Linked DNA regions of Homo sapiens. The protein of the gene in region 1 purifies or fractionates together with the protein of each later gene. This does not show direct contact. Each region holds a gene or a part of one and is shown in the gene's direction. Other genes may lie near its edges. The genes, in order: CAMSAP2, DCLK1, GIGYF2, DNAJC3, AGAP1, CGN and KCTD3.

Region 1 (4,479 bases):
TCTGAAGTCCTATCACTGCCTGTCACAGAGACTGTATGTCTGACACCAAATGAGGACCAATTGAATCAACCCACAGAACCCCCTCCTAAACCCGTTTTCCCACCCACTGCTCCAAAAAATGTTAATCTGATTGAAGTTTCCCTCTCAGATTTGAAACCCCCTGAAAAGGCTGATGTACCTGTTGAAAAATATGATGGAGAAAGTGATAAAGAACAATTTGATGATGACCAGAAAGTATGCTGTGGATTCTTTTTTAAGGTGTAGTATTAATCTGCATAGTTTTGGGCATCTTCATTAGATGAGTGTGGTTGTGTTGGATATTTTTTTTTTCAGTTGACATGCTTGCTTCTTTCAGTAGCAGTCCCTTTTGATACAAGTTCATCCCCATTAACTATAGTAACATTCAAGCACACTGTGGTTTCCAGTATGGACTCAAAGCTGTAATAAATCCTTTTATCACATGTTTAGATGTATTCCTTGGTTTTGCTCCTCTACTGCTCTTTCTCACTCACAAAAGCCTTTTAAAAATTAAGCTACTCAGATCTCTTCAGAGAATGATTCCATTTTGTCTCTTAATCATGTAACACTGCCATTTTTTTTAACAGAATGCTACTGTAGACACTAATAGATATTAAAATTTACTGCCTAGAGACTCTGTTCCTTGCAGAGGAAGGGAAACAAAGGGGAAGAAAATCATTAGTATAAAACAGGCAGTACCTCTGTTGCTTCATTTCTATTCCATTTATTTACACATCTTCACCACCCCATTACTCATCTGTTGGACTATGGTTACAGCTTCTTGACTGGGCTGTCTGTCTCCAATCATGCCATTCCAGTCTTCATACTGCTACTAAAGGTGATAGTTCCAAGAGCATAGCTCCAATTGAGTCTCTTTCTAGTCAAAAATCTTGCCTGTTGAATAAAGTTCAAACCCTTTAGCACAACATTCAGGGACTTTCACAGATGAACCTAAATCTTTTTGTCTAGCTTCTTCCCCATAATTTTATTTTGTATTGTTCTTTAAGATTAACTTCAAGCTTCATCTAAAGCCTTTTATAATTCCTTCAGTCGAGGTCAAATGTTTCATCATTTGTGTATCTATTGTATCCTTAAATATACTCATACCTGTCCTGTGTCCCGGAGTTTTCAACTGTTTTGTATGATTTGCTTTGTCTCTTAGACCATGACCTCCTAGAGGTGCTGCATCTTTTTATTTTTATTTATTTATTTATTTATTTTTTGAGACAGAGCTTCGCTCTTGTTGCCCAGGCTGGAGTACAATGGCGCAATCTCGGCTTACCACAACCTCCGCCTCCTGGGTTCAGGCGATTCTCCTGCCACAGCCTCCCTAGTAGCTGGTATTACAGGCATGCACCACAAAATAAATTTTGTATTTTTAGTAGAGATGGGGTTTCTCCACGTTGGTCAGGCTGGTCTCGAACTCCCAACCTCAGGTGATCTACCCGCCTCAGCCTCCCAAAGTGCTGGGATTACAGGCATGAGCCCCCGTGCCCAGCCAAGGTACTGCATCTTTTTATCCCCATAGCATAATAAAGTGTCTGGCAAACTACAATATATGTAATTTGATAGATGAAGACATATGAATGTTTGAACTAATTGCTTGAATGGTATCTTCTGACTTTCTCCATTCAGAGTTAAATCTCTCTCTGGGTTTCCATACAAAGCCTGTTGTTTGTACCTCTTCTCCTTGTGATTTTTTAGGCTCCTTGACCTGAGGTACCATATATTTTAATATATGTAATATCTGACACTATGTTGTGAGTATGTTAGACACCAAAGAAATGTTTATTGAATTAAGCATTGGCAGGGACAGTTGACAAGGAGACATTAAGACAGTGAACCACTTCTACAACAGCTTGTTACTTTGCTGAATTCTGAAGCATTTTGGAAGCCCGCTGAGAACTAGGGCTGTCCCTAAGGATTCAGGTAGAAACTAGGGCAGGCCCAGGAGGCCTATAGATAATGAACTAGCTCTCAAATTAAAAGTACTGTAGAAGGGAAGTATAATCATCCCCATCTTTTCTTCAATGGAAAAATGTTCATTATAGTTCAGAACCTATCAAGCAGACTGTCAGTACCTCAACTTAAAATCATGCAGCAATAGTTTCATTTATGTGCTACAACATTGGGTGGCTAATTTTGGGATGTTTTTACTTGAGGTATTTTTACTGAGCTTATATTTTAAATAAAATTTAAATGCAATTTTAAAAATTGGTGGGGGAACTACCTACTGTAAGTTATTAAATTAGGGTTAAAAAAAATTTGTGCTTTTTTGTTTTGTTTTTATGGTTGTTCTTTGCAAATCTCATAGGTTTTGACAGAGTGTAATTAAATAAGTTTGCCTGTCCTCTTTTTTGATGGAACTGTTACCACTGTAGTTCCGTTCTTCCTTCATAATTTCTCAACCACACCCACATTCAGAAGGGTTGTAATAGTTCAAACTTTCAGTTATAGGACTAACCACAAAATGTGACTACAACAATTGAAAATGAGAATATTGGTACCTAAAATGTTTGATCGTTTTCAATGAAATTCGTTCTTAGGATGATCAAAAAGCAGAAAATGATATGGCAATGAAACGGGCAGCTTTGTTGGAGAAAAGATTAAGAAGGGAAAAGGAAACTCAGCTCCGGAAACAACAGTTGGAAGCAGAAATGGAGCATAAGAAGGAGGAAACAAGGTAAAGGAAATTGCTGGCCCAGTGCTAGATCTGAACTTTAATGATGCATGGGCATATTTAGAAAAAGTTGGTAAGTACTCAAAGAGGTGGTCTCTCATTAATTTTTATTAACAGATTTCTTTCAGAGAAGTTTGTAGTATAGATAGACAGCTGGATCAATGCTATTTTTTGGTGCTTTGTAGAAATCAATTTATTTTCCCAAAGTATTGCCTAATTTTATATTTTTATCTTAAGTTTAAGGCATCTCATGGGAAAGTTCTCTAGAAACATTAATTTAAATAATTATATGTTTAAAAAACATTAAAATAACTTTCCTGGGAGATACACACACACACACACACACACACACACACGACCTAAATTATCTCAAATACCTTTATTTTTATTTATTTATTTGACTCTTCCTTCCCTCCTTTATTTACTTATTTATGCTTAATCCCATGTCTCAGCAGAATCGTCAAGTACCTTTTAAATGAACCATTTATTCACCAAGGTGATGAAATAGAATTCTCCTTTCTCATATCAAATACATAACTCTCTCCTGTATGGTTTGTCTTTGGTATGCAGAATAAGAACTGTAACCATTTGATTTCTTAGGCGTAAAACTGAGGAAGAACGTCAGAAGAAAGAAGATGAGAGAGCACGCAGAGAATTTATTAGGCAAGAATATATGAGGCGGAAACAACTGAAACTAATGGAAGATATGGATACAGTAATTAAACCCCGTCCTCAAGTAGTAAAACAAAAAAAACAGCGACCAAAATCTATTCACAGAGATCATATTGAATCCCCCAAAACACCAATAAAGGGTCCTCCAGGTAACATAGCTTATTATGAAGAGTCTGTTCATAAAAAACACCAGCTTGATTGGTTTGTCATACTAACTTGGTTGTACTTTGATGTGCAAAATTGGATACACAGTTTGAGATTGTGCATGCTCCCTTTTGGAAAACCAAAATGAGCAAATGAAGTTTTTAATAAATTAAATGTATTATGTGTGCATGCATATATTCAGTAGAACAAATGTGAATGCTAAAAATCAAATCTAAATATTAATCTATTAGGGAACTGTGCCCTCAGATATAATCTCCTTGAACTATTAACTGCCCTTTACATACTTATAAATTTAAATAAATGTTATATGCATGAAATGTACAAGAAACATGTTGGTATAATAAGGAATGCAAGATCAAGAGTTCACAAGTCCCTCCTTCAAGATAGAAATGGTTGAAAATCCAAACTTATAATATCTGGAGTTGAGAGAATATATTTTCTTTAAAAGTCAGTATACATACTCATTATTACTATTATTATTTTTTGAAACGGGGTCTCAGTCTGTTGCCCAGGCTAGAGTGCAGTGGTGTGATCATGGCTCACTGCAGCCTCCACCTCCCTGGGTTCAGGTGATCCTCCCACCTCAGCCTCCTGGGTAGTTGGGACTACAGGTGAGTGCCACCATACCCAGCTAACTTTTTTGTATTTTTTGTACAGATGGGGTTTCTTCATGTTGTTCAGGCTGGTCTCGAACTCTTGGGCTCAAGTAATCTGCCTGCCTTGGCCTCCCAAAGTGTTAGGATTACAGGTGTGAGTCACTGCGCCTGGCCATACTCTTATTTTTAAAAAAATCTTGGGGGGCAGGGATAAATTCGTAAAAATAAAAGAAATCTTTATTAAAACCAAATGCCATGGAAATTTTTTAGAGAATTCTCATAGTTATACTAAACCTGAGGAAAAATAACATAATATTGACTGTTTAAAGAGAACTCTGTTTTCAAGCC
Region 2 (4,479 bases), on another chromosome or scaffold:
GTTCCACTGCGATGCTTCCTTTTGAGTTTAAAGGATTATTGTCTTTCTCTGATTTTTGAGGATATGCAGGGACTAATCTGTTCAGTTTAATTTTTTAAGTCCAATTTAGGTTAATAGTCATTATCTGTTTTAGACATTTAATGTGGAAATAGGACTGTTTGCGTCCACGGATGCAGCCTGGTATCTTATGCAAGCAGAGAAGGTCACCGACTCTGGGCTACACTTGCCTCAGGACTGACCCTGTTTGAACAGGGCATAAAGCCTGTCATTGCCTTAGAAATCATCGCCAATTAAAATGAGTTGGAGAAAAAAGACTGGGATTAAATGTATACCAAGGTGCAAAAAAAGCTAGCAGATCCTTTTTGGAGGGTTGATTTTTCTGAAATTGAGATCTCAAGGCCCTGATGATGAAGAAGTAGATGGCACAAAAGAATCTGGGAAAGGGAGGTTGGATGGAGTGTTGGAAGAGCTTGATTTCACCTTGAGTTCATTTTTACTCCAGAACTATTTGCTCAGGCCGTGTAACTCAACTGGGTCCAGGAGGGATGCCATATAATCCCTCCCTCTCTTGTGCAGGTAGCAGGAAGCACCCGTTGCAGCCCCGTTGGAGTTGGGGGCTGCTCTCCCCTGACCGCACACTGACAGAGCCCTCTTGTCCTGCTTTGTAACCAGTGTATGTATGTGATTCAAGGCTGGGGACTTCTCCCTTTTTGCTTCCCTTCATCCCTTGGCAGAAATGCCAGCCTGATCACAGTGTGACTGGCCTTGAGAGCGTGCAGAGGAGCCTGTGTTTATTTTGTGGGAATTCACATCCCTTTTCGGTGACTTGACATGCTGCCAACATGCCTGTGGACTTGGCCTTTTTCCTTCTATTCAGAGGGTGGAACTTCCAGTAAATTAAAGGAGAAGAATTAACATGAAATTTTACTGTTTCAGCTTTAATTTCTGTGCCCTGTCCTTTGCATGACCTTTGGAAATCCAAGGTTAAATGAAACATTTGGTGGTATAGTCTAGGGGATCTGGATAAAAGTTATACGCAAAGTCAGGTGCATGACCAGTCAACAAGCCGTCCCTCTGAGGGCCGGTAGTACTGTAGGGAAAAATATGGCAAGATCTCAAAGCACATCCTAAGACAGCCATGGGTTGACACCTCACTCTGTTCCAGAGTCACTTGTGTAGCATCTATGGGGGTTGGGGTACTTCAATCAGTTTCCCACCCAGAAATGATCTTTACTTAGAAGTGGCCGAAGATACTCCAATGACTCCCATCCACCAAGGAGAGGGTCTGGGAGGTGGTAGATGACAGTACTCCCTTCACATCTAGGGACCAGCAAAATTATGGCATGCTTGTCACCATCTTCTTTGTCTTTTACTGCAAAATAATGCTTTCTCTGAGGGACTGATGTCTTGACTGAAGGTAATAATGATAGCTCTCAGTTATTGAGCATGTGCCAGGCACTGGCCAAATCCCTGCATATATGAATACATTTAATTCTCACAATGATCCTAGGAGGTGGGAACTGTTATCCTTATATTAAGGTGAGAAAAGGAAGGTACAGTGTGGTTAAATGATCTGCTCAAACTCACAAAGAAAGAAATGGTAGAGTTAGGATTTGAACCCAGGAAGGCTAGTGCCAAAGCTTGAGCTCATAACTACCTCTAAGATGCTGTGTGCTATGAATTCAACTACTATATTGAGTTTTTCCCCTCAATCAATGTGAAGTAACTGCCGACTGAATATTCTGATGTTTAAAAATGACTTTTTTGGGAAAAAAAAATTATCTGATTGAATGAATGGTAACTTTGGTACAGTGTGTGAGTTCACCATGTTGGCTGCATTTATTTTTTGAATTTTCATTTAAACAGATTTTTTTTCTAATTCATAACACTGACAATTAGCATGCAGCTGCACTTAGTGTTTAAATAGCTGGAAATTCATTTAGATTCGCCTCTTTGTCAATTACATTTTTTGCTTAGTCTGTTAAAATGCAAACCGTTGGTTCATATTCATCATTAGGCTCATATCTCTGACTTTACATACTAATTTTATGTAAACGTCAGTGCATGTTATTAGCTTTTCATTTCCCCTTCCAATATGATGATGTTTGAGTTTTAAATTAAATCCTTTTAGTGGGTGCAGTGGCAAGTGTATTGGACTTATAGTTATTTTCTTGCTCTTTCTCACTTGCTCTCAGACTAAAAATTCTGAATTACAATATTTGTGAATTTCTTTATCTATGACAGTCTTGTGGTCACTGTCACTGTTTTGTTTTTATCTATGGATTATTATGCCTAAGTGTGGTTTAAGCATGTTGGTAGAGCTAGCTGTATGTATTTAGCTGAGCCAAAATCATATAGTCAGTGTGAATGTGTGTGTCTATGATTGTATGTGTGTCACCTATGCACATATGTATGTATATACACACATATTCACACACATACACTTAAGAGCATTCCAAAGGTGACACTCTTGTTTGCTTTCAAAATGGCCTTAATATGTTTTTTTAAAAAAATCATGATGCTTAATAAGGAAAGTTGAATTGCAGGCCTATTTCCGCAAGTGATTCATCTTGAGACTTGGCCTCATTTCCCCCAATTTTGCACCATCTATATTCTACTGTAGGTAGGTAAATGTTGTGATGATAAATAAAGGTGTCACATTTAAAGCCTTTGAACTCTTAGGAGAAAGATGTAATGTAAACCTGGAGCATTGATGGATTGACTGATTTGTCCTTCTTTTAACATCTTATGAAAATGTACATGTGAGAGGGCCAGAACATTTTCTTTAAACATTAAGATAAAAACTCTGTAGATATGTAATCTTCTGGATACAAGTAAGTGAATTTGTTCATCAGATCTGCGCTATTAGAGATGAGTCCCTCTTCTTCTTTGGTTCTCATGTATGCCTTGGCTTTTCACTAACCCTGTATGGACGTTGCCTGACTCTGGAGCTGCAGTTTGCATAAGGGCTTTTTCCAAGTTTCTATCATAATCCCCCTCTCAGGATTAAACCCATGCTTCACCCCACAGTTAGGGAATCTCTTTCCTACCACAGCCTCTGGGTTACCCATCTTTTCCTATTCCCTAATAGAGCATCCTCTACTTTATTTCCCTATTTCACTGGCTTTCTCTATGCCTCTCCTTGCTATAATGAATTTTTTAAAATTAATTTTTGAATAGATATAAAATTTGCTCTTCCTAAAATTCCTCAGAGGGGACCACTTTACTAGTTTCTTTTTCTTTTCTTTTTTCTTTCTTTAAAAACAAAAGCAAAAACAAAAAACAGGGTTTTGCCATGTTTCCCAGGCTGGTCTCAAACTCCTGGGCTCAAGCCATCCACCCACCTCAGCCTCCCAAAATGCTGGGATTTCAGGCGTGAGGCACTGTGCCCAGCCTACTAGTTTCTTGAGGGTCCTCTCAGAGATACCAGTGCATGTGAAGGACACATATACAGCAATGCCCCCTTATCCTGGAAGGAAATACGTTCTATGACACCCAGTGGTTGCCTGAAACTGCAAATAGTACTGAACCCTGTGTATACTGTGCTTTTTTTCCTGTGAATACATACCTATGATAAAGGTATGTATATGATGCAAGGTATATGATAAAGTTTAATTTATAAATTAGGCATGGCAAGAAATTAACAACAATAACAAATACAATGGAACAATTATAACAATATACTATAATAAAAGTTATGTGAATGTGGCGTCTCTCTCAAAACATCCTTTTGTACTGTACTTGCCCTTCTTGTGATAGAGATGGAAGAAGCAAGATGGCGTGAGAGTTCATCACACTACTCAGAACTGCATGCAGTTTAAAACTCCTGAATTGTCTCTTTCTGGATTTTTTCATGTAATATTTTTGGACCTCAGTTGACTGCAGGTAACTGAAACCATGGATAAAGTGGGGCAGTACTGTAATTTGCCCAGAAGGTAACTTTTTATGCCAACAGTTCTGCACCTTGCTTTGTGTACTTAACAATATATCCTGAAGACCTTTCCATACTGGTACATCCAAAACTACTGTGTTCTTTTACTGACTTCATAGTACTCCTTTATACAAAGTTACCATCATTAATTTAACCAGTCTTTTATCAATATGCTTTTAGGTTGTGTTCAATTATTTGTTATTACAGACAGTTGTGTGATGACTATCCTTGGATAGATGTTTTCCAGTCATGTAGGAGAATATCTTTAGGATAAATTCCTAGAAGTAATATTGTTGGGTAGAGAGGTACAAGCATTAAAGTTTTAAGCACTATTTGCAAAATTCCCCTTCATAAAAGTGGATTCAGTTTACACTCCAACCACTTATGTATGAAAGTGGCCGTTTCTCTATCCTCAACAAGATGTTTTGAAATCAGATGTTTCCCATTAACTAACCCATTAAGAAAAGAAAACTGTATGTCTTCTCATACAGTTTTTCATATAATTTTCACATAATTTTCATCTTTTCATGTGTTTAAAGGGCATTTGT
Region 3 (4,479 bases), on another chromosome or scaffold:
CAGGAGGCCGAGGCAGGAGAATTACTTGAACCCGGGAGGCGGAGGTTGCAGTGAGCTGAGATCGTGCCATTGCACTCCAGTCTGGGCGACAGAGCGAGACCCTGTCTCAAAAAAAAAAAAAAAAAAAGTAATTCTGAGGCCGGGCACTGTGGCTCATGCCTGTAATCCCAGCACTTTGGGAAGCCGAGGTGGGCAGATCGCTTGAGGCCAGGAGTTCGAGACCAGCCCGGCCAATATGGTGAAATCCCATCTCTACTAAAAATACAAAAAATTAACCGGGCATTGTGGCTTGAACCTGGGAGGCGGAGGTTCCAGTGGGCTGAGAGTGTGCCACTGCACTCCAGCCTGGGCGGAAGAGTGAGACACAGTCTCAACAACAATAAAAAAAGAAGTAATTTTGCATTTCATGTTTTTATTCTCCTTTTTAATACTGTTAGCGATTTACATTTTTATTTGCAACAGCAGAATTTAATCCCATCAAGTTAATTTTATGTAGCTACTGTGTATTTACATTCCATTTAGTATACTGGATATTTATAACTATTATCTAAAAACAGGAATCCTCAGCTAGCTTCTGTTTTTATGCAACAGCAAAGGCGCCAGCAGAGGGAGTTGATGAAAGCTCTTCAGCAGCAGCAGCAACAGCAACAGCAGAAACTCTCAGGTTGGGGGAATGTCAGCAAACCTTCAGGTACCACGAAATCTCTTCTGGAGATCCAGCAGGAAGAGGCCAGGCAAATGCAAAAGCAGCAGCAGCAGCAGCAGCAACACCAGCAACCAAACAGAGCTCGTAACAATACGGTGTGTGCATTTTCCTAAGCTGTCGTTGTATGGACTAGTATTATCTTTTCTGACTGTCTTCTTATCTTTTTAACATGATTCACGATAATCATTTTTCTCTTTTTCTTTAACAGCATTCCAACCTGCACACCAGCATTGGGAATTCTGTTTGGGGCTCTATAAATACTGGTCCTCCTAACCAGTGGGCATCTGACCTAGTCAGTAGTATTTGGAGTAATGCTGACACTAAAAACTCCAACATGGGATTCTGGGATGATGCAGTGAAAGAGGTGGGACCTAGGAATTCAACAAATAAAAATAAAAACAACGCCAGTCTCAGGTAGGGCTCAAAATGACCACACCTATGCACCTTGGTTGGTTGGGAGGTGGGGATGGAGGAAGTGGGATGTTGGGTGGGCAGGAAAAGGTAGTTATTGAGTTTTTGCTTACCGTTTTCATCTGTGTTCAAGCACATGCAGTCATAATTATGGTGATTGCTTTCTTCCCCATAGAAACACATTCGTATTATTTCTTGGGGCTCCTGCTGAGCACTTATTCTATCGCCTAGCACATGGTAACCACTTAATAAATATTAGGAATAGTATAATGTTTTTGTTGTGTTGTTGAACATTTCTCCAAGGTATTCTCTAGATACCTTAGCATTTTTCCTATATTTGTATTTTTAAGTAATTTATGCTATTAATATGAGTATTATAAAATACCTCTGTAATGACCTTAAACCTATTTATTTTTATAAGTTAGTTACATTTTCATCTTCATCTTTCTTTCTTCAATATACAGTGTTGTTGAACGAGCATGGGTTTTAGTGTTAAATACATGAACTCAAATCCCAGCACTACCACTTATTAGCTGTGTGACCTTGGGCAAGAGGGAACCTCTTTGGGCCTCAGTTCCCTCATCGGTAAAATGAAGATAATAATAACAACTTTATGCATGTAATTGTAAAGATTAAATGAATACATGATAAGTAGTAAGTGCCTGGCACATAGTAACTACTTAATAAATGGTAGTGTTGTCAGATTGTTTCTTCTTGATTTAGGGCCTAACATATTATGAATAGAACAATAAATTTCTGTTAGTTTATTGAGCATCTTTGCCAGGCACTGTGCTGTAGGCCTTTTCATAGAACATCTTTATTACTTATGATAACCCAAAAAAGTTGTTAGTACCGTTTTACAGATGAGGAGACTGAGGCTTAGTAAAATTAAACAACTTACCTAAGGACACGTAGGAAGAATTTCATCATTTTTTCTAAGTAGAACCCCTGTATCCACAAATTAGGATATATTAACTGAGGCTAGATTTTAAGGGTATATCCAATCCAAATATTTGAATTTTTTTCTTTTTTGGAGCCAAGCATTGGATTATTTACTGGGCATCCATCCAGTATTGCCAAGACATTATTTATGGTGTTGTACTATAATCATATAGTAACAGTTTCTGGGAATATAATATCACCCTATTGTTTTGCTTTAGTAAATCTGTAGGTGTGTCTAACCGGCAGAATAAGAAAGTAGAAGAAGAAGAAAAGTTGCTGAAGCTCTTTCAGGGAGTAAATAAAGCCCAAGATGGATTTACGCAGTGGTGTGAACAGATGCTTCATGCCCTTAATACGGCAAATAACTTGGATGGTAAGAATTGGGGAGGGAAACCCGGCATGTGGAATGACAGAGCAGGACCCACAGAGAGGCTGGCAAATTTGAACAGTGGGCCAAAAGTCAAAAGATGAAATCTAAGGAGGTCAACTGCTGCACCTGCCATAGGAACTTGACTCTTTAATAGTATTACTTGTGAGAAAAGTCCAGTAATACTAAACTCAAATAGATTATTGGTGGTTGTCAAAAAGTAAATGCCATCTTAGACTGCCTTAATGATACACAGGACAGAGGAGGTCTTAGTTCCATACTGTTCATTTTATGGGGAACATTGCCAGCTATGTCAAGTTAAAAAAAGTAACTCTCATGCTGGGGACAAAGGTCAACCTGGACAAGTGATGGCTGAAGTGATGTGACATCATTCCCTTTCTACCTTTGGGGGAGGGAATGGGAATTGTGATAAAGCAAGTACACTTATTTTGTGTAAGATAAAACTAGGACCAATGTGCAGAAGTGAAAAGGCTTTGGCACAGTTTAGAGAAAAACTTGCTCATGGTTAGCTGTTTACAAACAGAACTGTCTCCCATCCCTGAATATTTGAAGAGAGACTGGTCAACATGTCAGGATTCCCCTAACTAATAGGCTGAATTGAATTAATCCACCTCTGATACCCTGTCTAAAGCCAAGAAACTGTGAAAAATAGCAGTAAAGGAATTAAAGAGTTCCTTTGCAGCAGTGTAACAATATCTAATGGTTTAAAAGCCTACAGAGAAAACAATTTTAAATAACAGTAATGGCTGCCATGCATTAAGCACCTACCATGTGTGCTAGGCACTCTCTTGGAGTTAACATGCAGCATCCCAGTTATTTGATTAGCAGTGATTTTTAAAGATACCTTTACAAGATAGGTGATATTATCCCCATTTTATAAATTAGGAAACAGAGGCTCAGAATGGTTAAATAACTCATCAAGGTCACACAGCCAGCAAATTTCAGAGTCAGGTTTTAAACCCATGTTTGTCTAACTCTGATACTCATGCTTTTCTCCTATACCACACACTGCTTACATTTTCCATTTGATTTCTCTCTAAAAAATCTCAGTGGATTGAAAGTTCCAGGAAGATATAGCTGTTTTCTTTAGTGTATGTTGTAGTGCCTGACACATATCATAGGAGTTAATAAATACTGATTGAATTTGAGGGTTCTTAAGGAAAGAATGAATCCCCAAATTACTTCAGCCTTAGTCAAGTAACTGTTTCAGTCAGTATAACATTCAGTGAAATTAAACATGTGGTATGGATGTTGTGATTATAGTGTTTTTTTCATTTCTATAGGGTAGATAAAAGAATATTTAAACACAATTGCTGCATACTTACCAAGTGTCTGTCATTAATGTTTGATTAGGTATAAAGATACATTAAAAATGGAAACTGATTTTTGTAAGTTCTCTTTCATTATTTCATTGTTACCCTTATCTTCTCCCCTCCCGTTTTGCAGTTCCCACATTTGTTTCTTTCCTGAAAGAAGTAGAATCTCCTTATGAGGTCCATGATTATATCAGGGCCTATTTAGGAGATACTTCTGAGGCCAAGGAGTTTGCCAAGCAGTTCCTTGAGCGCCGTGCCAAACAGAAAGCCAACCAGCAGCGTCAGCAGCAGCAGCTGCCACAGCAGCAGCAGCAGCAGCCGCCACAGCAGCCGCCACAGCAGCCACAACAGCAGGTATAAAGTAGTGTGGTGTATGCGGTACCTCTGAGGATTAATACCTTTAGATGTTGAGTAACCCAAGAAATGAAAATTAATACAAAGGTACCATTTTTGTATATCCAATAACCATGCTTTAAAAAATGTGTATACTTCATATTTTCAAATTACTTGTCCAGATACCTTTGTGTATCTCCCAAATAGCAAGTACAACCATTCATTTTACACTAGGTTTACCAGTTCCATTTTTCTTGGTTTGTATTTGTGTCATAGTTAGATTGCACATTTCAACATGTCAAACCCATAGATCTGGTTTTGAAAAGTTAAAACTTAAAATGTTGAATTTTCCAGTGTTCAGGATGCACTGTATTGAGTACTGA
Region 4 (4,329 bases), on another chromosome or scaffold:
TTTAATATTAAACACAACAAATTAAAAGTTGTTATAGGTAAAATAAGTTCAGATAAAATAGTGGTGGTATTTAAAATAATATTGCTGAAGTGCAGATTGAAATACTTTTTAAACAACTGAAGTTCTGAGTTTTTATAGGGAATTTCATGTAACAAGACTGGTTTAGAAACGTAAAGTTGCGCAGTCAACATAAATAAATACAGAATGCCATGTTCTCCACTTCTAAGTAAAGACAGTGGGCAGCTTCTGTTTCTCCTTCTATCAAGGCTTCACCCTATCTTAAAGGTCTGTGGTGCCTCCCACGTGGGACCTGTCTGCTGGTATGTGTTAAACAGCAGACCGGCCCTTCTACCAGATCTTGATGCCTCTGATTTTCTCCTGCCTACAAGAAAATACAGGCAAGGTTAGTCAGGTCTGGCTATATTTCCACTGTTGTTTCATTTAATAAGATGGCATCTCCTCTTGAGATATGTTCTTCTTACCTTTTAAGAAGATACTATTTAAGAAGTGAACTATTCAGTCTTTGTATACTGAATGCTTTTTCCCTAAAAAATGTTAATCAAGAATATTGAATATTTATGGCACTCTTGATGCTGCATTTGAAAGCTGAAGGAATTACTTTAGATAGATAGGAATTGCTACCTTTATTCTGGAAAGGTTTTGTTTCTGCCTCAAAGCATTTTGAAGTGTTTTAACCATTAAAGGGTCTAATTTTTTTTTCTTAATGAAATCAAGCATTTTAATTCACTGTGGGAGGCATCCTGACCACGGACATCCATAACAGCAAAGCACAAATCGTTTTCGTCTGTAGTCATATCCTGAAACATAGGTGGACAAATTTTTAACTGAGAGACAAAAATCACATAGTTGAATTGAGCAGAACACTTAAGTGCTTTCTGCATCTATTTAGGAGTCTATTTCTTACCAATAAACTTGACAACGCATTTGGAAAACTAGTGAACACCTTACAGCTTTCATTTTGCTTTAATGTTTCAATTCAAGCCGGTGTAAAAATAATTTCCAAGGCATTTCTGTTTATTCTTTAGTAATCTCACTACTGGCTATGTCAGCAATATCTTTTTCAATCTGGTTCCTTTTGTATATGATGTCACTGTGACCTCTTTGAAATATAGTGATGGCTTTTACCTACTTTGAAAAGAATTTTCACATAGAGTCAGAAAAAAAAGGAAATATCAAATCACTTGCCTTTCCACTTGGAGAGCACGACAGTTGCCAACAACAAGGGGTCAAGGGCCGCACAGGAGATGTGTGGGGGCCTGGCCACCTCCCACCTGCTGCCCAGAGGCTTGTTTGCATTTTCATTTTTTCTCCACTTGTAACAACCATAGTTTCAGCTCCTAAATTCTTATCATGGATTTACTTAGTCATCTTAACTGACCTGCAGTTACTTGCCTGTTTTCAGTGAAGAGAGAGAAGCAGCTCTGGTGCCACATGCCAGTGCCATGGAGGGAAATGAATTCTCTGCAATCTGTTGTTTCGCTGATTCATGAAGAAAGTAACAACTGTTGAGTTTCAGCCTTGATGGCTGTCGGCAGTTTTCTGGTGTCCACCCAAACGGAGAGACAGTCACTCCTGCTTACCCTAATGTGTGACTGAGAAGCAGCCTGGGTGTGTAAAGAGATAGTCATTCCCCCTGCCTGTCTCACTGTAGGGTAGCATTATCCACTGTAAAACCATACTACTTTCATTTTCCCTTGGGGACTACAGGTGCCAGGTAACCTTTTTTTTTTTTTTTTTTTTTTTTTGAGACAGAATCTTGCTCTGTTGCCCAGGCTGGAGTGCAGGGACACCTCCCGGGTTCAAGCAGTTCTCCTGCCTCAGCCTCCAAGTAGCTGGGACTATAGGCACGCACCACCATGCCTGGCTAATTTTTGTATTTTTAGTAGAAATGGGGTTTCACTGTGTTAGCCAGGATGGTCTTGATCTCCTGACCTTGTGATCTGCCCGCCTTGGCCTTCCAAAGTGTTGGGATTACAGGCGTGAGCCACTGCGCCTGGCCATCAGGTAACCTTTATGGCTCTTTCAGGAAAAGTGAAATCAGAGAGGCGTACCCTAGCCACAGCTGTTGTATTCTGCTCTTCTTTCCTTTTTGGTGAGCTTCATGGGTGGAGTTATCAGTGGTCTGTACTTTGTGGATATTTTGCCCAGCAGGAAGTATTAGACACATCAGTCTAGAAGCATTGTGAAAAGGTTCCAAAACGGGAGACAAAATTTAATTCATTCCTCAGTTCTGAAAGTTTGTGCTTTCTTACCATGAATAGATGAAAACTTGAAAAAAATCTTGACAGTTTACTAATGTGAATCAGATGTAACGTACTACTAATTCTACAATGCCTTTCTCTTTAGTCAGTATTAAAAATCTTTTTTAAAGTATTGGTATGAAAACAAATTTTTGTTGCCCTGATAATGGAATTTTAAAACTACCCACAGTTTAAGAGAAAACATAACTTGGTAAAAAAGGTAGCCAATAAAACCACAATTTGAAATTGATACCATTTTCTACTCACAATGGATGATGAAAAATTTCACCTTTAAATGGGTCAGAAGTTGTCTTTGACATTTACCATGAAAAAACTACATAAAATGGCTCCCTGGTGAGGTTACAGACACGGCCCTGGTGATGGGCGTTGCAAAGTTTTCACTGAGCACACAGCAATGGTATCACCTAGAGAAGTTCACGCAACTTTGTTGAATGTAGTTGACTTTTCCAAATTTATAAAGGAAGGAAGAAGGCAAATGTTAATTTGCCAACAACGAATATCCTTTTTCTAAATCAGATCATTCCTTTTTTGTTAGTGGCAGTTTATCCTGTAATTTCAAATGACGTTAAGAGGTGGGATTATTTGGGGGTTTTTTTTGTTTGTTTACAGATGATCTCATTTGCTGAATGATTGATTTAAGAGTAAAATTAGCCACTGCGTGGCTTTGTGTATAGTAACCGGTTTTGTTGCACTTGTCTGTGGCTGAAACACTTACCTGCAGTGGAAAGCCGAGCAAGGAGGAGGTAAACATTGGAGATGTTTGTGAAAATATTACTCTTGCTGTGAGGTTTTAGTTTGTTTTGAATGAGAAAAGACTAAGTAACTTAATCCATCTCAATGTAGTGTTTTAATAAAAAAGGAACCTAATATTTGAAATGGGTCTCAGACATGTCTACAAATATGGGTACTATTTTTATGCCCGTGTATTTTCACATTTAATAAAAATATTTATGGTCATATCAGTATTTCCTTGCTTTTGATTCATTTTTGTCCTTGAGTATAAAATTCTAAGAAAGTCCGTCTTAGGAAAAGTCTATTATTTCCAGCTTTGCTTCACGCAAAACCAGTGACTGAGGTGACAAAAGGGCTCTTCCTTTACACAAGTTGACAGGGAAGGTCAGAACACACAAAGCAGAAAGGGCTAAAATAAAATCTCTTAACCCTCAAAAGTCCTAGGACAACTAAGGACTTAAAAAGTGGACAAGTCTTCCATTTCAGTGCTATTAAAATGTAACACTTAAATTGGCTTTGTCTGAAGATTTTCTCTTCTCTTTTATACCCCATTTGTACATTTCTGTTAAGGTCCTAAGTTGGGAGGAAGGAAGGACACTATAGCCTATCTATCTCAAATTTCCAGCTACAAACAGAAGGAACTGCCTTCTCAGTTAATGTATTCTGCATATCTTAAGAAAGATCCAAGGAGAGCTACGATATGTAAATGTATACAGAACTTTTCCAGAAAGCTCAAACCTTCCTTTTTTTTTTTTTTTTTTTGAGACGGAGTCTTGCTCTGTTGCCCAGGCTGGAGTGCAGTGGCATGATCTCGGCTCACTGCAACCTCTGCCTCCCTGGTTCAAACAATTAACTGCCACAGCCTCCCGAGTAGCTGGGATTATAGGTGCCCACCACCACACCTGGCTAATTTTTTTGTATTTTTAGTAGAGATGGGGTTTCACCATCTTGGCCAGGCTGGTCTTGAATTCCTGACCTCGTGATCCACCTGCCTTGACCTCCCAAAGTGCTGGGATTACAGGCGTGAGCCACTGCACCCGGCCAAAGCTTCCAAATTCTTAATCGTCATGATATTGTAGCAATATATGAGCAGCCAGCCTGAGTCTGAAGATAAACAGCATGAACACGTGGAGCAGGCATGAGGGCTGTAGGGAAACTGCAAGAAGAAGGGAGGTCCAGGTCCTCTTCCCAGAGCCTCAGGAGCTCTCATTGAGCAGGCACCAAACCCGCTCCCTCCCTACCCCCAGGCCCAAATCAGTGCTTCATTATCTTTAAAAAAAAATTATCATTTTAATCTTAATGCCAGCTTACAGGT
Region 5 (4,479 bases), on another chromosome or scaffold:
GACCAGCCTGGCCAACATAGGGAGACCATTGTCTCTACAAAAAAATTTTTAAATAGCCAGGTGCATGGTTCACACCTGTAGTTCCAGCTACTCAGGAGGCTGAGGTGGGAGGACCACTTGAGCCCAGGAGATGGAGGCTGCAGTGAGCTATGATTGCACTACTCCAGCCTGGGCAACAGAGCAAGACCCTCTCTCTAGGTGGGGAAAAAGGTACATATCCAGTACATATCCTTTCACTTAGAACTTCTACTTCCAGGAATCTATTCTTAGTAAATAATCATGAGTGTGTACCAAGACTTAGCAATCATATGTTCTTACAGCATCGTTTATGATAGAGAAAAATTGGAAGCAACTTAAATGTCCATCAAAGAGAACTTGATAAGTAGGTCTTCACTAAGTGGAATGCTATGCAGCCATTTAAAATGATGATGTCAGAGAGTATGTGACAGCAGTGAGCAATGAACAAGTTTCGTTAGGCTGGAAAGGGCAGGTTTCTATGCAGCAATATGTATTACGCTGGCTTTTTAAAGTACATATGTGTATGTAGATGTGCTTAAACAACAGGCTAAAAGAACAGACATCAAAATGTTAATAATGCTTAACTATGGATGGCCGTATGATTGTTTATTAATTTTATGTTCTTTTTCCCCTCTCTGTATTTTCTAAACTTGCTTCAATGAGCATGTATGTTTTTAAATCCTTTTTAAAGAAGACCATAGAGCCAGGTGTGGTGGCTCACACCTGTAATCTCAACACTATAGGAGGCTAAGGCAGGAGGATCACTTGAGCCCACGAGTTCAAGGCTGCAGTGAGCTATGATCACACCACTGCACCCCAGCCTCAGCCACAGAGCGAGACACTGGCTCAAAAAATAATAATAATAAATAAATAAATAAAAATAAAGCAAGCCATCAAGTGTAAGGTTAAGAATCAGCACTCCCAGCTATACTCGTGTTTCTCCCTGCCCCCACCCTGGCGAGTGGCTTTGTCACTGTGGCAACCGAGGGTCTTCAGATGACATGTGCATCTCCCAGGGTGACGTGTGGTATGAATGGGGTTTTCTGACAAGGAACCATGAGATATGTCTTACATTGCTGATGAAGCCCTAACCCTGGGCTTATAAACGGATTATTTCTTTCTCATTCTTCTTACCAAGTAGACATGTGGCTACTGCCCAGAAGGTTACCCATTTACCTTCTCCAGGTTACCATGGTCCATGCGTATTCACAGATGATCCAGAACTCTCCTCTTTGCTCATTTCTGGCAGAGTCCGTCTCAGCTGATGAGTTAAAATGTGACATTTCCTCCCTCCCCCCGCCCCATGCATGATGATTTCTTCTTCAGTTATGCTCTTTCCCAAAGACATCAAAACAAGAGTGATTGTTTAGAAATTACCCTCGTCCTACATTTGCTCCCAATCTGTTTGATCTTTCCCTGATGTTATCAGTGATGTGCGTTTCTCCCGGGGTGCTTACGCCTTGTATTTGTGTCTTCCTCCGTGCCCAGTCCCGGCTGACGAGCCAGAGCGAGGCCATGGCCCTGCAGTCGATCCGGAACATGCGCGGGAACTCCCACTGTGTGGACTGCGAGACCCAGAGTAAGTGTGTGCGGTGGTAGCAGGGGCTGGCGCTGTGTAGCTGGAGACCACATGGTCCCACTAGGCCCGGGTTGCAGGGGACTCACATCTGTCCTGTTTGGCAGATAAGAGTTAACTGCTTTTAGGAAATTGAGATATTTTGTTTGGATTTTACCTTAACAGAGTGCCTTCCACACAAGCCTCACCCCTGGCTGCAGGGTGCGTTTCTGTGAGTCTTTCCTTGCCTTAGGCATCCGATGAGCAGCAGTCATACCTGAGGTGCAAAGGATTCAACCCCACACCCACAGCCTGTGCCAAATCTAGGAAGCCCAGGAATTCAAGACGAGCCTGGGCAACACAGGGAGAACCCGTCTCTACAGAAAATTAAAAATTAACTAGGCGTGGCAGCTGGCTTACTTTTTGCTTAATCAGTGATCACTTGTTGATTTTTTTTTTTTTTCATAAAAATAGAATATAATTGGTTCATTCCTGCCTAGAGATTCTTGGGTATTGTTTTTTTAAATTCACAATCATATGTTCTGGGTTTTGCCATCAAATGATGTCTTGTTTTTTTTTGGTCTTAAATCCATTACCCACTAAAGCCTCTGATTGAACTGATAGAAGTTGTAATTACTGCTTTGTGCCATCGAGTACCCCAGTTTTATTTCATGATTTCCGTTGTCTAATCCATACTATTACTTTCCCTTTGAAAAAGTCATTTTGTTGTTCATAATCTTGAGAGTAGGGACTTATTTTCATGGTTGCAGTCCCAGCCCAGAGACAGTATTGGAGACATTCAGTAAATTTCTTCCCTTCAGATTTTTTTTGTTAAGTAGTGTTTTGAAGAGAAGGAAGTTCAGTTCAAACAAGGTAAGAGGTGCTGGTACCAGGCTGGGTGCTGCCCAGGAGTCAAACGTGCATGGCGTGGTGGGTCCTGCCATCCTGAAGCCTGAAATGCACTGGACAAGGCACCAACCTGCTGACCATGGAGCTAAGCGCTGGGGAGAGCCATCGGGGGCATGCGGCGGTCTTGCCACCCATGCAGGAGCTGTCGTGTCAGCAGGGCTCTGGAGATGGGCAGGGTTTGTACAGGGAAGGGGCCGAAGGAATCACTGTGAGCAAAGGGAGTGGCTTGAGGAGAGCTTCTCTGGGTGGTTGTAGGATTAGAGATGCTTTTTGGGCTGGAAAACCAGTAGAAGCTAGTTGGAGTGTGAGTGCCAAGTGAAACTTTTTCCAGCTTTGTTCTTCATTTGTAAGCAGAGAGACATCATTGGAGTTTTAGAGCAGGAAGGAGATGGACCCTGAGCTCCACTTGGGGAGATGGATCTGGCCAGACCATTTTGAACATACTGGAATAGAGGCAAAGCAGGGAGGAGGCCAGCCAGGGTCGGCTTGGCCGGGAAGGGAGACAGGAGCCCAGGACTGCTCCAGACAAAAGGGAAAGGAAGCGCCCCCTCCAAGAGTCCACTCAGCAGCATAGCAGGCAGGGGAGAGATCAAAAGTCTGTCTGCGGCCTCTCTGGAAGCCTGTCCTGCGGGTGAGGGAAGGGGTTCTTCTCCAGGTATCTTGAGGTTCTTCTTTAAAGTACCTCCTTATGTTTGAATGTTTAAGTTTTACTTTCAAATGTGTGGTGAAATGAAGTTCGAAGAGAGAAGCAGTTATTTGAAGTGTGTTTCTATCAAAAAGTTTTAAAAGTAAGAGCTTTTTTAAAAGCACGAATCTGAGAAATATTAGAACATCCATTAAGGAAAATGCCTGCAGTTGTTTCCACCGTGCGTCTGAAGGTCGCTTTAAAAGGAAAGCCATCCGTGGCTTGCGGGGACCATGATACCTGGCAAATCGGAGGTCGCAGGTCCTGTCTGAGATGAGCTTGTGCATGTGAGTGCGGATGGGGGGTGGGAAAGGGAGGCCAGTGCAGGGGAGGTGTGGGCCAGTTTGTTCTGAGCAAGACCACCTGAGCAGATGGACAGGGACAAAGGGAAAAGGCAGAGTTTGACAATTCAGGAGAAAGAGGCGATACCAAGCACGCATTTGCTAAATGTGTGGTCTGTGTCAGCCCGGTGCCAAACCCTCCCATGCGCTGTCTTTTCATTCTGCAACCCTAGTAGTTGGTGCCCCTGTGGGCCCCACTTAAAGGGGAGGAATTGAGGAGCCTGAAGGGTCAAGTCATTTGTCTGAGGTCACAGAAATAGCAAGTCCCAAAGCAGGATTCAAACCCATCTGTTGTCCAGCCTGCTGTATTTTCTCAAGAATGGAAAGGCTCAGAAGATGTAGCACATTGGCAAGGATTTGTTAAGTAAAAATACCCAATTTTGGTTAAAGTACCGGGATAGGTACAGTGCCCACACTGATGATGAACTGTAAACACCTCCATGGGGCCTTTCGACAATGTATATAAAAAGCTTTTGAAGAGTGGATGCCCTTGACTCCAGCTGTATACTCCAGGAACTAAACCAATGGGATTGAGTAAGGCGGGTGCAGAGATCTGTCTTTCCAGATGTTCATCACAGTGCTTTACATGGCAAAAAATCAGAAGCATCCCAAATGTCTAACAATTGAAGAGCAGTTCATGGTGATGTCTTGTCTTTGCTACCTTTAAAAATCATGGAAAAAGACTTAATTGAGCCTGGGCACGGTGGCTCACGCCTGTAATCCCAGCACTTTGGGAGGCCAAGGTGGGCGGATCACCTGAGGTCAGGAGTTCGAGACCAGCCTGGCCAGCGTGGTGAAACCCCATCTCTACTAAAAATACAAAAATTAGCCGGGCATGGTGGCATATGCCTGTAATCCCGGCTACTTGGGAGGCTGAGGCAGGACTTGAACTCGAGAGGCGGAGTTTGCAGTGAGCCAAGATCACGTCATTGCACTCCATCCTGGGCGACAGAGTGAGATTTCGTCTCAAG
Region 6 (4,479 bases), about 49 Mb from region 1:
GAAACTCTCCCATCCCTGTTCCTAGTCCTCAGTTCCTCCACCTCAAAGGCATCACTGCTATCAGTGTTTTTAAGTTTCTTTCCAGAAGTGGGATGATATACTTTGAGGTCTTCTATATTTTAAATGAGCTCTGGGAGAGAAGGCCCCCTTTTCTCCAGTGAGATGGAGGTATCTGCTCAGCAGGGTGTGGGTTCTGCCTTCCCTTGGTGGGAGGAAGGGAAGAAGGCACACAGTGTTTTTTTTTTTTTTTTTTGGAGATAGAGTTTTGCTTTTGTCACCCAAGCTGGAGTGCAGTGGCGCAATCTCGGCTCACTGCAACCTCCACCTCCCGGGTTCAAGCAATTCTTCTGCTTCAGCCTCCTGAGTAGCTGGGATTACAGGCATGCGCCACCACGCCTAGCTAAGTTTTTGTATTATTAGTAGAGACAAGGTTTCACCGTGTTGGTCAGGCTGGTCTTGAACTCCTGACCTCAGGTGATCCACCTGCCTCAGCCTCCCAAAGTGCTGGGATTATAGGCATGAGCCACTGTACCTGGCCACATGGTGGTATTATATGTATGTATGAAGATCAAGTAAAATCTTTTTTTTTTTTTTTGAGACAGGGTCTCACTCTGTCACCCAGGCTGGAGAACAGTGGCATAATCACTGCTCACTGCAGCCTCTCTCAAGCTCAAGTGATCCTCCCACCTCAGCCTCCCAAGTAGCTGGGATTACAGGTGTGCACCACCAGGCCCAGTTTATTTTTGTATTTTTTGTAGAGATGGGGTTTCACCATGTTGCCCGGACTGGTCTTGAACTCCTGAGCTCAAGCAGTCCACCCGCCTTGGCCTTCCAAAGTGGTGGGATTACAGGTGTGAGCCACTGCTCCTGGCCATCAAGCAAAATCTTTAAACTTTTAACAAAGCCTAGCTCCCCAGGGCTGTATCAGAGGAAGTGGATTCTTTTAGGTTAGTGAGTCTCAAAGTGTGGTACCTGGACCAGTAGCATCAGTATCACCTGGGGAACTTGGTTAGAAATGCAAATTCTCAAGTCCTAACCCAGACCTACTGAATCAGAAGCTCTGGAGGTTAGGTCCAGCAACCGGTATGTTAAAAGGCTCTCCAGGGGCCTTCTGTTAGTCTGAGAATCAGTGGTTTATCTAGTAGGAACTGACAGGGAAGTCAGCCCGCAGGTAGAAGTTTCATAGTTTCTAGTGAAGTCTCTCAGCCTAAACTCATTTCTTCATCTTCTAGGACTCCTCCTATTTATGGAGCAGGCACCCAACATGGCTGAGCCCCGGGGCCCCGTAGACCATGGAGTCCAGATTCGCTTCATCACAGAGCCAGTGAGTGGTGCAGAGATGGGCACTCTACGTCGAGGTGGACGACGCCCAGCTAAGGATGCAAGAGCCAGTACCTACGGGGTTGCTGTGCGTGTGCAGGGAATCGCTGGGCAGCCCTTTGTGGTGCTCAACAGTGGGGAGAAAGGCGGTGACTCCTTTGGGGTCCAAATCAAGGGGGCCAATGACCAAGGGGCCTCAGGAGCTCTGAGCTCAGATTTGGAACTCCCTGAGAACCCCTACTCTCAGGTCAAGGGATTTCCTGCCCCCTCGCAGAGCAGCACATCTGATGAGGAGCCTGGGGCCTACTGGAATGGAAAGCTACTCCGTTCCCACTCCCAGGCCTCACTGGCAGGCCCTGGCCCAGTGGATCCTAGTAACAGAAGCAACAGCATGCTGGAGCTAGCCCCGAAAGTGGCTTCCCCAGGTAGCACCATTGACACTGCTCCCCTGTCTTCAGTGGACTCACTCATCAACAAGTTTGACAGTCAACTTGGAGGCCAGGCCCGGGGTCGGACTGGCCGCCGAACACGGATGCTACCCCCTGAACAGCGCAAACGGAGCAAGAGCCTGGACAGCCGCCTCCCACGGGACACCTTTGAGGAACGGGAGCGCCAGTCCACCAACCACTGGACCTCTAGCACAAAATATGACAACCATGTGGGCACTTCGAAGCAGCCAGCCCAGAGCCAGAACCTGAGTCCTCTCAGTGGCTTTAGCCGTTCTCGTCAGACTCAGGACTGGGTCCTTCAGAGTTTTGAGGAGCCGCGGAGGAGTGCACAGGACCCCACCATGCTGCAGGTCAGACCCAGCCCCTCCCTGACTTCTAAATGTCAGCCCCTTCTCCCTTCTCATCAGCTTTTACCCACCAGCCATGAGCCTCCTTGCTAATTCAAATAGCCTAGGCAGAAACTCTCTGCCTTTTGTTCTCTACTGTATCTGTCCACAAAATAGGTGATATTCACATGCACAGGATATTTCCATGGGTAAAATTCTAAAGAAAATGGAGCAAGCTATAAAATCACTATTCACAAGTTTGGACCTAGTTGTCATTGCCACAACCATTAACTATGGCTCAGTCACCAGCATTTGCAAGGTCTGCAGAATATGTAAGGCGGGCTTGGAGGATAAGAGCAGTTTCCTTGGTGCTCTTGCCAAAATTCCACACCTTTCTCTCCTACTCAGGAATGTAAGTAAGTGAGGGAGTGACTTTACTTTGAGAGAAACGTAAGTCTGTTTTAAAAGTAAATTATTTATAAACTCTAGCATGTTAACTACCATTAGTGACAAATCACTTGTGGCACAGTTTGCAGCTGGTTGAGATGTTTGTTGAGGAAAATCTGGTTTACAGCAACAGTGCAGAGGTGCATCCTGTGTTGGCCTCTCCCTGGCCTGTTGCTCAGGCCTCCACAGCATGTTTTCCTTGCTGCATTTCAGGATTGTTCATCATGCTTGAAGGGACTTGACCTGAGACTGCCACTTCTCCTCCATCTGAACCCCACGCATGCTTCTGGCCTAATCTTCCTATTTCTTTCTTTCTTTCTTTTTTTTTTCTTTTTCTTTTTTTTTAACAGTTCAAATCAACTCCAGACCTCCTTCGAGACCAGCAGGAGGCAGCCCCACCAGGCAGTGTGGACCATATGAAGGCCACCATCTATGGCATCCTGAGGGAGGGGTGAGTGGGGGCCCCCCCAACAACAGAGGCATACCCCTCCTTCTTTTTCTTCTAGCTTTGTTTCCCATCTTCCCTGATTTTACCCTTTCCTGATCTCTGCTACCTCTTTCCTCCCCTAACCCTTGCTTCTATCCTTTTATCCTCTAGAAGCTCAGAAAGTGAAACCTCTGTGAGGAGGAAGGTTAGTTTGGTGCTGGAGAAGATGCAGCCTCTAGTGGTGAGTGGCCTTCTCTGGATGGGAGCAAGGGTCAAGGTTAGAGCTTTGAGGGCCTCAGGGGATCCAGACTTGGACTCACTCCCTTCCCCCACACCCCCCATATCTCTGGCAGATGGTTTCTTCTGGTTCTACTAAGGCCGTGGCAGGGCAGGGTGAGCTTACCCGAAAAGTGGAGGAGCTACAGCGAAAGCTGGATGAAGAGGTGAAGGTAAGGAAAGGTTAGAGGTGCCGGAGGCATGAAGGAAAACAGGGAAAAAGCCTTGGCCTGGAGATGGGCTGAGCTGACCCTTCTAAGCAATGGAACAAGCATGTTTGTGTCTTATGAGACAAGAGACAAGAATGTGTACTAATTCCAGGAAGGACTTCTGGGGTTCTGTGGGGGTTAGGGAGGCAGAGCACATTAGGAATCTACCTACCTTCCATTCCACTCCCTTTGGGAGTTCCCATCCTGGCTCTGCCCCTTACTAGCTATATAAAACTTAAGAAAATTACTTACATTCTCTGTGCCTCAATTTTTTTTTATCATTATCATAATAATGGCAATAGTAGTAGCTATCATTTATTGAGTATAATTTTGGTAGTATGTACTGTCCTGGGTACTGTAATCATTATAGTTACCCTGTGAATACCTATTCTGGACCCTTTTCTGATGAGAAAACTGAAGATCAGAGAGGCTAAGTAAATTGCCTATGGTAGTAAGTTGCAGAGAGGAATGAAAAAATCCGGGTCAGTCTTATTCTAAAGCCAGTGTACCCTTTTTAAAAACATGTCTTCTGCCTTTCATCATATTGGTTTGTGTGTAGTTGGTGCTCAATAAATGTTGGATTGTAACTTCCCTTGTCTTTTGGAAATCACTGTAGTGTAATGATTAAGTGATTGGCTGTGGAGCCAAACTAACTGGGTTCAAATCCTGGTTCTGTTACTTGTTGGCTGTGTAACTGACCTTGGGCAAGTTCTTTAAATGTTCTAAGCCTCTGTTTCCTAAATTGTAAAGTGGGGATTATGATAGTACTATATTAATTAACTATTGCTGTGTAACAAATTACCCAAAACTCAATAGCTTTAAACAAACATTTCCCAGCCGGGCGCAGTGGCTCACACCTGTAATCCTTTGGGAGGCTGAGGCAGGCAGATCACCTGAGGTTGGGAGTTTGAGACCAGCCTGACCAACATGGAGAAATCCTGTCTCTACTAAAAATACAAAATTAGCCTGGTATGGTGGCACATGCCTGTAATCCCAGCTACTTGGGAGGCTGAGGCAGGAGAATT
Region 7 (4,479 bases), about 15 Mb from region 1:
ATTAGGAATAGGAATAAGGCAGGCATCCTAGGAATCCTAGGCCCACATTTTGTTGGGGAGAGAGGGGATTGACTTTTCAGTATTGTCTTGACTGCTGTCTTAACTGTGGTCTGTTTGCTTACTTACAGAATTTATAGTAAGAAATATGAGATACTTACTTAGATTTAGACTTTCTAAATTTATATATAGAAATACTAGATACAAATATTGAAACAATGTATATTGTTTATACTAAGTATTAAGTTAATTGACTAGTTTGTTTATACACACTTTCATACCACATACCAAAGTAAAGGCTCTGGGATCTGGGATTTTAGCAAAAGTAGGAGGCATGATTTCATGGGACAGTAGAAATTGAGCCTCCTACAAAAATCTGAAGTTTTAAGTTTCTCAGTCCCTGAGAAGACTGGGAAAAGTTTGCCCAGTAATCTTGGAACAAGAAAGTTTGATGTGTGTTTGGTGTCTTGGAATGGGAAAAGGAGATGCAAGAGGAAACCATTAGAAATTGAAACCAACATATTCAAATTAGGAGTGAATTGAAGCACAAAGACTTGCCTTTGTTCTATGAGAACTCCAATTTGAGAAACTGATCTAGGACTATTGACATTTCTAGATACAGATATGACACCAGTTAGAACACTTTCTCAGAAGAGAGCACACAAGAATCCTGTAGAAAGAGTAATTTCTGCTAAAATAACCTCCCAAAACTTATAAACTTCACATGGAAACAAATAACGAAAAGTCATTAAACAAGAAAAAATTTGCAATCCCCAAATTGGAAATAATGGAACAATTAGAAAGCTGCTGTATTGAAGGAATAGGACAAATCAGAAAATGGAGGGAAATAAAATACTGAAAATTAAAAGGTCATTGAAAAAAAATTTTTAATTTTATTTAATGGTTAAATAGAAGCGCAGCTAAAAGAAAATTAGTAAATTGACAGACACGTCTGAGAAAATCATTTCCAGTTGAGCCAAGAGTGAGATAGAAAATATGAAAAAGAAGGAAAAAGTGAGAAAGCATTTCAGATAGGAACAGACTAGAGGAGCCATATTGAAAAAGATAACAACTGCTAACATTTTGGAGAAATGAAAATGGGCATGAATTTATTGATTAAAGAAATGTACCAAGTCTTGGCAGCCTGAATGTTTAAATGTGCTATAATAAAAGATAAATTATGATAAAAAGTATTCATAGAATAGTGACAGTTTGCCTGTCATTAGACTTTGATCAGATTTCTCATCACCAGTAGTAGACACCAGAAGACGACAACGGGCATTCTCCAAATGGTAGAGAAAGTAACTTTCAGCCTAGGTTTTCATACACAGCAAAACTATCATTCAAACCTGAATGAGAAGGGTTTTTTTTCAGAGAGAATTTTTGAAAGGACTACTAAAGAAAAATGCCTTTTGAGAAGAACGTTATATTTGAAGGGGAAGAAATGGAATGCATTAAGCAGTGATTAGGAAAGATGTTGGTAAATACGATGGTAAATTTAGATAAGTGATTATTTAAAAAGTAATGGACGAAGGTTAAAACATCCTGTAAAAAATAATGATAAGTTTACAGGTATAGAGATTGTAGTTAAAAGATTCTAGGGGCCTTATATGGGAAGATAGACTGGTATTTTAAAACTGTAAATTTAAATTTACATGTAGAAATTAGTGGTAATCACTGTGTGCTACCTTATAAGAGAAAAATCCACTTCCATTTTATATTTGTGACCACATGACTGAACCATGCATACTAATCAGTATGGTTTCTTGGATTCTTGCCATGAAGTTGTTAGGACGAAGAAGAGGAGGCCACACAGTGGCTGCTTCCTTGCTTGTGCTGGGAGAGAAGAACTCAGCAGTTGTAACTCACTGTAACTCTGCTTATCCTCTGCTTTCTCTGTTTTCCCGTATGGAGGGGTAGACATGGAAAGAAAGGCAGATCATGATTAAAGGTTACAGAAGGAGAAGTAGCAAGGCTTTAATCCTAGAGCCCATCCTCCCAGAGAATAAATGGTAAAAATGTTTGCCTTTGTGCCTTGGGAAGCGCTAGGCTCCTGCTGCTCTTTCATTGAAAAAAAAAAAAAAAAAAGAATGTATCCAAAGGGAGAAGAATCTCATGGCCTTATCTGTCCCCATTTTCCTGCCATGAAGAATCTGGGGCAGGAGTTGAAGCCCTTTCCTTTAGTGCTAGAACTAAAATGATTTAGCTAACTTGAGTAAGAAAATTGGTTAGTGGTGTGTAAAGCAGTCTCCCCTCCATCCTTTAGACATCTTTACTGATATCACTGAAAAGTACTCAATGTTTTCCTGGTATAAAATGTTTTGGCATTGGCTTTAATTAAAAGCCTGACCTCAGGATAGGGCATGATGATTGAGTTCTTTGAGATATTTCTTGTGTAACTCATAACTGCATGACATTGAGAGGGTACAGAAATTAGGATTATATACAGGAAGAGCTTAGAGGAATGATTATTTCCAAGTTTTAGTTATTTCTGTTTTTAATTAGAATGAACCTAGATTCTGTGCTTTTTTTACTTGCTCTTCAGATATTCCCTTTCCCCTTGCCCTACCTAACTCATAGTTGACTTCAGTCTTCAAGCTTCACTTCCTCTGTGAACCTTCCTTGATCTTTGCTCTTCACCCACCAGCACTGAGATGGCAGTTCTTCCCCTCTCTCCTGTGATTGTATTGTAGTCTATTTTAGTGCCTGTCACACTATAATTGTCTGTTATTTTTCTTTCTCACAAGTTACCAGCTCCTAGAGAGCAAGGGGATACCTCACATCCCTTATCTCTAGTTCATTGTTTGTTTTCTTGGATAATATGTGGTACATAAAAAGTACTTAAATGTTAAGCAGATAATGTTTAGATTTTAACTTTTCAAATGAAAGCCAGGTATAGTATATGAAAAGTAAAAGTCCCTTAACATTTTTAACTTTTAAATTATTGGAAATCTTTTAGACTTGTATGCAAAACTTGGTGTCTTAGTAATTCAAATGTCATCTGTGAAGAAGCTTAACAGGCTTGTCTGGCCTGGCTGTAAACAGGGAAGATTCATTTTGATGAATAGTAGAATATCACTCTAGTAAAATAGTATTGCAACTATCCTAGCAAACACATTTTTTTTTTTTTTTGGATACCAAGTCTCACTCTGTTGCCCAGGCTGGAGTGCAGTGGCACAATCCCCGCTCACCGCAACCTCTGCCTCCCAGGTTCGAGCAATTCTCCTGCCTCAGCCTCCCGAGCAGCCGGGATTACTGGCATGCGCCACTACGCCCAGCTAATTTTGTATATTTAGTAGAGACAGGGTTTCACCGTGTTAGCTAGGCTGATTTCGAATTCCTGACCTCTGGTGATCTGCCTGCCTCGGCAGGTTTCTTTTAGCACAAATATGGGAAGGTATTAATTTGTAAACTAGATTGATTTTCCTGGAAAAACTAATTTTTTTATTCCTATACTTTAAAAAAATAAATACAAATGAGACTTTGTTTCCCTTGCCATTTCCTAGAAAAGAAGTAACCTTTAGCAAGGAGAATGAAAAATAGAGAATACCACCTTTTCAGAGAAATAATAAATTATCAAGGGAGCAAGTACTTTCTGGAAATCAGTTGCTTTGTTTACTAGTTCTGATTCTGTCACTTGCTTACTGTGTAACTTTGGACAGGTCATTTAATCTCTTGTATGAGAAAGGGAAAAGAGAGGGACCTGGTCAGACTCGGCCTTCCAGTTCTAGTGGGCTGCAATCTAGTGATCACATGCAAAAAAAGAGGAGACAACCAATCGAAATTGAGAAAGGAAAGTACTGCTGTGGGAAATACAATTTAAAAAAAATATTTTGAAGGAAGTATATTGATGGTTCTCCTCTGTAGCATGTTTGTGTATATGTGTGTGCACGCGTGCACCTAAAGAAAGTTTATTTCCTAAGCCCTACTAAAATTGGATATTGGTTGCCTCTTTACCAGAAGAATCAAAGTTTTGAGGAAATTGACCAGAAAATAGAAATTATAATTACTATCTAACATCTGATAATACTCTCACTACATCAGGTTCAAGATGTTGTTCCTATAACTAGTTATGACACTGCTGGATCATTCCTTCTGCTTGGATGTAACAATGGATCAATATATTACATAGGTAAGTGTTCAGTCACTTAAAATGCTCCTGCTTAATGTAATTTTTTAAATGAGAACAAGAAAACATTACCTTTCAGTTTTAAATAGATATGCTATTTATTTTAATGCTGTTTAAAATTTTTATGTTTTAGATATGCAGAAGTTCCCCTTGCGAATGAAAGATAATGATCTTCTTGTAACTGAACTGTATCATGATCCTTCAAATGATGCTATTACTGCTCTGAGTGTTTACCTCACACCCAAAACAAGTTAGTACATGGCCAATTATATACATTCTTGACTTTTTATCTTTTTATTCATTAGTTTATTATGTGACTAGGTCAAATTAAACTGGTTTATTTCTTTTTGAGA

What was found.
Region 2: the proteins of CAMSAP2 (region 1) and DCLK1 purify together in Homo sapiens (affinity purification with mass spectrometry, with the first as the bait; one large-scale study listed by BioGRID). This does not show direct contact.
Region 3: the proteins of CAMSAP2 (region 1) and GIGYF2 purify together in Homo sapiens (affinity purification with mass spectrometry, with the first as the bait; one large-scale study listed by BioGRID). This does not show direct contact.
Region 4: the proteins of CAMSAP2 (region 1) and DNAJC3 fractionate together in Homo sapiens (co-fractionation; one large-scale study listed by BioGRID). This does not show direct contact.
Region 5: the proteins of CAMSAP2 (region 1) and AGAP1 purify together in Homo sapiens (affinity purification with mass spectrometry, with the first as the bait; one large-scale study listed by BioGRID). This does not show direct contact.
Region 6: the proteins of CAMSAP2 (region 1) and CGN purify together in Homo sapiens (affinity purification with mass spectrometry, with the first as the bait; one large-scale study listed by BioGRID). This does not show direct contact.
Region 7: the proteins of CAMSAP2 (region 1) and KCTD3 purify together in Homo sapiens (affinity purification with mass spectrometry, with the first as the bait; one large-scale study listed by BioGRID). This does not show direct contact.

Annotation. Positions count from the first base shown.
Region 1 is NC_000001.11:200,849,977-200,854,455, forward strand, and holds part of CAMSAP2 (calmodulin-regulated spectrin-associated protein 2), read left to right. Parts: coding exon 1-258; intron 259-2,564; coding exon 2,565-2,701; intron 2,702-3,298; coding exon 3,299-3,519; intron 3,520-4,479. UniProt on the Homo sapiens protein: Key microtubule-organizing protein that specifically binds the minus-end of non-centrosomal microtubules and regulates their dynamics and organization.
Region 2 is NC_000013.11:36,120,740-36,125,218, reverse strand, and holds part of DCLK1 (serine/threonine-protein kinase DCLK1), read left to right. Parts: intron 1-4,479.
Region 3 is NC_000002.12:232,843,455-232,847,933, forward strand, and holds part of GIGYF2 (GRB10-interacting GYF protein 2), read left to right. Parts: intron 1-591; coding exon 592-801; intron 802-914; coding exon 915-1,120; intron 1,121-2,277; coding exon 2,278-2,432; intron 2,433-3,893; coding exon 3,894-4,117; intron 4,118-4,479. UniProt on the Homo sapiens protein: Key component of the 4EHP-GYF2 complex, a multiprotein complex that acts as a repressor of translation initiation. In the 4EHP-GYF2 complex, acts as a factor that bridges EIF4E2 to ZFP36/TTP, linking translation repression with mRNA decay.
Region 4 is NC_000013.11:95,791,742-95,796,070, forward strand, and holds the end of DNAJC3 (dnaJ homolog subfamily C member 3 precursor), read left to right. Parts: 3' UTR 1-3,247; downstream 3,248-4,329. UniProt on the Homo sapiens protein: Involved in the unfolded protein response (UPR) during endoplasmic reticulum (ER) stress.
Region 5 is NC_000002.12:236,039,245-236,043,723, forward strand, and holds part of AGAP1 (arf-GAP with GTPase, ANK repeat and PH domain-containing protein 1), read left to right. Parts: intron 1-1,506; coding exon 1,507-1,597; intron 1,598-4,479. UniProt on the Homo sapiens protein: GTPase-activating protein for ARF1 and, to a lesser extent, ARF5. Directly and specifically regulates the adapter protein 3 (AP-3)-dependent trafficking of proteins in the endosomal-lysosomal system.
Region 6 is NC_000001.11:151,517,274-151,521,752, forward strand, and holds part of CGN (cingulin), read left to right. Parts: intron 1-1,232; 5' UTR 1,233-1,246; coding exon 1,247-2,119; intron 2,120-2,892; coding exon 2,893-2,993; intron 2,994-3,140; coding exon 3,141-3,210; intron 3,211-3,322; coding exon 3,323-3,418; intron 3,419-4,479. UniProt on the Homo sapiens protein: Probably plays a role in the formation and regulation of the tight junction (TJ) paracellular permeability barrier.
Region 7 is NC_000001.11:215,597,826-215,602,304, forward strand, and holds part of KCTD3 (BTB/POZ domain-containing protein KCTD3), read left to right. Parts: intron 1-4,041; coding exon 4,042-4,129; intron 4,130-4,259; coding exon 4,260-4,376; intron 4,377-4,479. UniProt on the Homo sapiens protein: Accessory subunit of potassium/sodium hyperpolarization-activated cyclic nucleotide-gated channel 3 (HCN3) up-regulating its cell-surface expression and current density without affecting its voltage dependence and kinetics.